Regions from separate parts of the Homo sapiens genome. Here region 2 is reported to be linked to region 1. The links are microRNA targets in miRTarBase. Many come from high-throughput screens and were not tested one by one. Region 1 holds a microRNA gene; the other region holds the end of a gene's coding sequence.
Evidence for each region. Region 1 holds the annotated microRNA hsa-miR-4328 (CCAGUUUUCCCAGGAUU, at 2,254-2,270, shown strand). A microRNA usually pairs through its seed, bases 2 to 8, with sites in the 3' UTR of a target mRNA and lowers its output. Matches are read on the target gene's strand: a 7mer-m8 pairs with bases 2 to 8, a 7mer-A1 pairs with bases 2 to 7 and ends in A, and an 8mer does both.

Region 2: the mRNA of FAM174B is a reported target of hsa-miR-4328. Seed matches in the 3' UTR shown: 7mer-m8 at 1,430-1,436.

What each region holds. Positions count from the first base shown.
Region 1 is chrX:78,900,067-78,903,473 of GRCh38, reverse strand. It overlaps MIR4328 (microRNA 4328), which reads left to right and starts at 2,225; the gene lies at 2,225-2,280.
Region 2 is chr15:92,616,798-92,620,204 of GRCh38, reverse strand. FAM174B (family with sequence similarity 174 member B) reads left to right here. Exons shown (of 3, transcript NM_207446.3): 3 at 746-2,757. The coding sequence ends at 749. Among named protein-coding and RNA genes, the nearest start is that of FAM174B, 37 kb to the left of the region's middle.

The DNA of each region.
Region 1 (3,407 bases):
TTCACATTTTCATATGCTTTCTTTGGGTTCCTTTTTATTTATGAAGGTTAGACAGATTCCCCAACAGAAAATAATATCTTCTGTCTTAAAATTCTAAGAATCTTTTATCTGGACTTGTTTTATGGCAAAATTACTTTTCTGCCTTCTATCATAGTCATTTGTGTATAAATCTCCACCAAATTGGGAATTACTCAAATGCAAGGATTATGTCAAACATTCATAGCACAAGTGTTTTATACAAGTAATTACTTTCTTAAAAATTTAACTTTTATTTTAATTTCAAGGGTATGTTTGCAGGTTTGTTATATATGTAAACTTGTGTTATGGGGTTTGTTGTACAGATTATTTCATCACCCAGGTATTAAGCCTAGTACCCATTAGCTAATTTTTCTGATCCTCTCCCTCCTCCCATCCTCCACCCTCTGATAGGCCCCAGAGTGTGTTGTTTCCCTCTATGTGTCCATGTGTTCTCATCTTTTAGCTGCCACTTATAAGTGAGAACGTAGTATTTGGCTTTCTGTTCCTGTATTAGTTTGCTAAGGATAACAGCCTGCAGCTCTATCCATGTTCCTCCAAAAGACATGATCTCATTCTTTTTTATGGCTGCATAGTATTCCATGGTGCATATGTACCATATTTTCTTTATCAAGTCTATCATTGGTGAGCATTTACTTGATTCCATGTCTTTGCTATTGTGAATAGTGCTATAATGAACATATGCATGTATATGTCTTTATAATAGAATGATTTATATTCCTTTGGGTAAATACCCTGTAATGGGATTGTTGGGTTGAATGGTAGTTCTGTTTTTAGGCCTTTGAATAATAAATAATTTCTTAATACTTATTCGGCACTAAATTCTACTTAACTGGTTAATTGAATTTCATTGAGTTAAATTGAAACATTTGGAGTGCTCTACCCTATAGAAGTCACTAAGTATTGTTAATAAAAACCAAATACTAATCCTCTTTCCATCCCGGGGCCTTTACCCTTGCTTTGTCTATGACTGCAACATTTTCCCTTAAGACTACGGCTCTGATAAATTATCCAGTCCACTACTCAAAATGTCACCTCTTCAGAGTACTTTTCTGAACAACCAAAATGAAAGCAAATACATACTCTGCACAAACTATCTCCTTATCCTGTTTTACTTTCTTCATGAAACTTACTATTATGTGACTTTATATTACATCATATATTAATGTATTTATTAGTTTATGTATACCCACACAGATTTCATTGCAGCAGGGAACTTGTCTGCAACCCCAGAGGCAAAATGAAATGTATTACTTGGATAGTGTATTAGTCAAATGATTTGCACTGATTATGATCTTTTGTGACCTTAAGCAAATCACAGTAGCCATCTACTATCAGTTTACCTCCACATAAAATGGAGGACCCCAATATCCCTGTTAGTTTCGGCATATAATTGGTATAGGATCTTATAGAACCTCTTTTTTTTAGCAATTCATGCTACAATTTTATTTTTATTTTTATTTTTTGTGGGTACTTAGTAGTTGTATATAGTTATGGTATACAAGACATATTTTGATACAGGCATGTAATGCATAATACTCAAGTCATGAAAAATTGAGTCTCCATCCCCTCAAGCATTTTATACCTGGGTACTCTCAATGTTTCTCTCTGCTATGAAAGGAAAGTTAGCTTTCAAGATATTATCTGATGATACAAGATTTTTAGAAAACAATAGACTTCACAGGGCATGTTATGTCTTCCTTTGACACTAAAGAGATCTAGTCTTGTTCCTGGCCCTCAGTGACTCATCCCCTTTTTCTGTAGTAGGAGCTCTCCTGGCTTAAAGTAAGGCTAATAGAGGGGTCAGGTCAGGATTGAAGAGAAGAAAAACAAGTTCTGTGGCTCTCTTGAGGTTGACCCAGAAGGGTCATTAATGCAGACATTGACTAATATCTATGGGTAAGATCAACAGTGAACCTGCATCTGAGACATGCACAGGCCCAGGAAGTGATACTTTTGATAAGTCTTCATTGGCACTTCTGAGGTCGCTGAGGATGGAGATCTGTGCCATTTACTGGACAGAGCAAGCCCATAAGAGCATGACATTGGAAGTCTATGTAAAAAGACTTCAGATCATCCTCCTCATTTTAGCTCACCATCTAGCAAGTTCAAGAATGGCACCTCTTCCCAAAAGTTGAAGCAATAATTTGGCCTCTCTGGTATTTAGAATTTCCTGAATTAACCCCAAAACAGTTGAGTCCTGAGAACCATTGAGAACCAGTTTTCCCAGGATTAACTGTTCCGAGAGATAAAAACTATTTTAGTAAGAACTTAATTTCCAAAGGCAAATTTCCCTGCTCCCTGTTCATCCCTCACATACACATTTCAAGTCAATGCAGTCTTTTCAAAAGAAAATCAAACCAGGACAATTGCCTCTGATATAATTGGTTTAAGGAGGAGAAGTAGATTTCTAATCTGAGGCTGTATAAATGTATCCCACTTTTTCAAACTGGTTATCATACTTTCTGAAATTCCACCATTGGGTTTTATTGCTTTAGATTAAGGCACTGCTATGTCTATAAATTGTTTAGGTAACAAATTCTTATAAGCCATTGCCCCTTCTTTTCTCGTATCTTTCATCTTTTGTTCCATGGCCTTTTTTTTGGTTTATGTCCTCAGTCTCAGGACCCCTTTGTCTATAACAAACAAATGGGTAACAAAAATCTCTGCCTGACATTCTAAATTCTTGATCAGTTTATCACCTTTTATTCCCAGTCAAATATATAAAACACATAATTTGCATCATTTTTACTCTCTCATCATTCCTTTCCTTCCTAACTTCCTCCAAACTGCTTCTTTTTCCATCTTCCCTACTCTACCCTTACCACACCATTCCAGCCTTCTTTCCAACTTATCTTTCCAAAGGCTCTAATAAATTTTATCTACTCTCACTCTCCCAGTTTTTTTCATTTGTTTGTTTTTGAATTTTGAACACTTTTGACACTGTCTATTGATTCAACCCAAACGTCCAACAATGATAGACTGGATTAAGAAAATGTGGCACATATACACCATGGAATACTGTGCAGCCATAAAACATGATGAGTTCATGTCCTTTGTAGGGACATGGATGAAATTGGAAATCATCATTCTCAGTAAACTATCACAAGAACAAAAAACCAAACACCGCATATTCTCACTCATAGGTGGGAATTGAACAATGAGAACACATGGACACAGAAAGGGGAACATCACACTCTGGGGACTGTTGTGGGGTGGGGGGAGGGGGGAGGGATAGCATTAGGCGATATACCTAATGCTAAATGACGAGTTAATGGGTGCAGCGCACCAGCATGGCACATGTATACATATGTAACTAACCTGCACATTGTGCACATGTACCCTAAAACTTAAAGTATAATAATAATAAA
Region 2 (3,407 bases), not on the chromosome of region 1:
GTTTTCTGACACTGTGGTGTGGGCCCGGGGTTTAAAGGTAAGGAAGCTTAGATGTGGCTTTTGTCTCAAGCTCCCAGTCTAAGCAAGAGACCAACACTACTCAGATACATAAACCAGGAGTCAGCAAACTATGGCCCATGGGCCAAATCCAGCCCACTGTCTGTTTTTGTACAGCTCAGGAGCCAAGAATGATTTTCACATTTTAATGGTTGAAAAAGAACCAAAGGAAGAATACTATTTTATGACATGAGAAAGTAACATGCAATTCAAATTTCAGTGTCTATAAATAACATTGTACTGGAACACAGCCATGGCCAAGCATTTCTTGCTGTGGCTGCTGTTCCACCCCAACAGCAGGGTTGAGGAGTTATCACCGTGATTGTGGGATCTGCAGAGTTTACAATATTTCCTCTCTGGACTGTCACAGAAGAAGTTTTCCAACCCCTAGTGTAAACACCCTGGAAGTGCTGGCAAGGAGAGGGATATAAGGAGAAAGAGGTTGTGTTCTAGGGAGTCTGTGTGGGGAGCTGGGGGAGGGATCCTTAGTTGGGAACTGTGGGGAGGGAGGGGGTTTGCTGGAAGAGTGGATTGCGCCTTCCAGACAGCACGCTCAAAGGTCCTGTGGCTGGGGACTGTGGCCTTTTCACTGGCTGAGAGGGTGAGGGATAGAGATGTTCAGGAGGGGTCAGAATGGGTGCGAGGCTCTGCCAGAAGGGGCTTACTCTTGTCCTTCCCTTTCTTTTAGGTAAAACCTGTTTCCCAGCCTGGTGGCATCCTGTGGAAAGTTGGTCAGCTGCAACCTGGGGTGTGAAGGACTGGACCTGGAAGCCCTCTTGCGTCGGAGGTGTTGAAACCAAAACGAACGTTATGTATAAAACCCCAGCTCCATCGTGCGTGTCAGGCATCTGCTCAGACTGTCACTGGCAAGCTCGTTTCCACGTCACCACAATGGAGTTGCTTCTGCCACCCTTTGGGCATCCCTTTAAAGTGCCCCCTACTTCTACTCCCCATGTAAGAGGCTTTGTGCCTTGCTAAGGAGCAAAGGGTAGAAACATGTTGATTTTAAAGAAGTTTTTTTAAGACAATTGTTGACAATAGTAAAAGAGATCAGGAGGATCAAGAATCTAAAACAAGCCTGAAGGATGTCCAACTGTGTATTTAGAATTTCCGACATTCTTCTCTACTGGATCTACACATTGGACCCCATCTGATCCTTTGCTGCTTTTTTGGCTTGGTCAGGTCCTGGCCTCATTTTGGCGTTACCTGTGTCAGAGTTCAAGGTGGATGTGCTTAGAGCTGGTCAGCCCCTTCCAGACCTGGACACGTCTGTGGCTCCTTTTCTTTCTTCCTTTTTTTTTTTTTTTAAAAAAAAAAAAGGTTCAGCAGAAATCAGCGTGGCTAGTTCACAAAGAATTTCCAGTATCAGGGAAAAACTGTGCGTGTGTGTGTGTGTGTGTGTGCACGTGTGTGCGTGTGCACGTGTGTGATACCTATAAAACAGTTTCTCCTTCTCTGAAGGGAAAGGAAAGTGCTAGGCAGCCTGTGATTAGCAACATTCTTTGTGCTTTTTTGTTGTTCCTCTGCTCTGTCACAGTTCTACGTTGTTTGCCTTAGAAATGTAATTTTTAAAAACCATTTTAAAAATGAACGGTGATTTGGCTGGCTGGAAAAAATCACACTGTCAGGGGACTATATTTGAAGTCAGTCTAGACGGGGCTGGACTAGGAACCCACCTGGACCCAGGAGACCCCACAGGACCCAGGAGGTCCCTGCCGGAAGGCAGAGGTTCAGGTGAGAGTGGCTCACCTCTGAGCTGGTGAAGTGAGGACTTGCCTGTGACATGACCCAGGGATCTGCTGCTGGCTTCTGGAGACAGGGCCTTGGGCTGACTTCTCAGGTTGATTGAGGCCTCCTGACTAGCGGTGTTCCCAGGCTAGAGGTGATTGGCTGCAACAAAGATGCTTCTATTAGTCTATTAGCAGTGCCTTCGGGACCCTGGGATTTTGCTCTCTCTAGAAAGGTGTTTTTTATTTTTTTATTTTTTATCTCCCCCTTTTTTCCTGGCTTTGCTCCAGGGTTTGTGTATTTGCCTGTTTATTGTCCTGCTCTTTTTTTTTTTGGATGAAAACTCCAGCCTTTCCTGACTCACCTCCATCTTCGGTTCTTCAGTTTTCTGAGAAGAGTTGGGATATGTGGGAAGGGGCATGGGAGCTCGGCAGCCTCCGCCTGCCAGGAAGGCAGTTTCGCCTCTGCAGGAAAGAGCAGAGCCCGTGGGAAGCCCTGGGTGAGGGTGGCGCAGCCGGCCCAGCACGCATGGTATTGCCAGCCACGGGGGGCCTGCGTGTAGTCTCTGCTCCCTGCATTTCACCTTCTTTGTTGACTTTCCTTCTCTGTTTTCCCCCATCTGTTTGCCAGAGGGGTGGGACTGGCAACAGAACAGCCGTGGCTGCTTTATCTCTCCTCTCCACGGTGTACTCAGGCCTGAGTGGTGACTCACGGGAGCCTGGCCACCTCGCAGCTGTTCGCCCCCTCAACCTTTGAACTGGAACTGCTGGCTCACACAGGGTTTTCGACAACTGCAGCTGAATCTCATGGAAAAGCTGGATTCCTCTGCCTTACGCAGAAACACCCGGGCTCCATCTGCCAGGTGCTTGCCACTGGTCCTGGCAGAAATGGCGGCTGCTGAAAGTGACCTTCCAAATCCTTGGTGGCACTTCAGCGCCACAGGCTCTCCAATAAAAACCCTTTACACACAAACCATGAGTACCTTGGGCTTGGATGTTTTCTGTGGTGCCGGCCAGCGGGGCACCTTTTGTGAAGACAGAGGTGGGTGGGCCCAAGGCTGAGGAGGAGGGCGGGGATGGGAGCTGGGCTGGAGGTGTTTGGATCCTGGTGATTAGAGAAAAGCTTGGAAATGAAAAAGGCTTGGTGGTGGAGGGGCATGCATGCTGTTTTTACGTCTACATATACAATTGGAGGCTCACTCGCTCATTTCCTGGAAGCTTGCTCCTTGGCTAGGAAATACTGAGGCCTAACTGTTTCCAGAGAATCTTGGGGCATCTCCAGAGAAGATAGAATCAATCACATAAAAAACTGCTGGCTTGTAACTGCCTCATACCTGGCTTGCTTTACTCTATGAGTAAGCATGGGATGCATCTGGGCCGGGTTCACAGCGAGCTGAGAAAAAGCCGGGGGAAAAGCCCATTTGCTGCCGTCCAGCTGGTTCCCTTGGAGGTCACCAAGGAGCTGGGGGTGTGGTCTGTGTCCCTCCTCCCTGAGGAGCTACTCCTGTGCTCCGTCTTCTCTACCACTGTAGCAGTGACTAAGGTTCTCCAGGGTAGCTCTTTCTCCAAACAGCTGCGCTGGAAGCCAGCCCTAGAGAGTGGGTTTCCCCATCATCTCAGGCT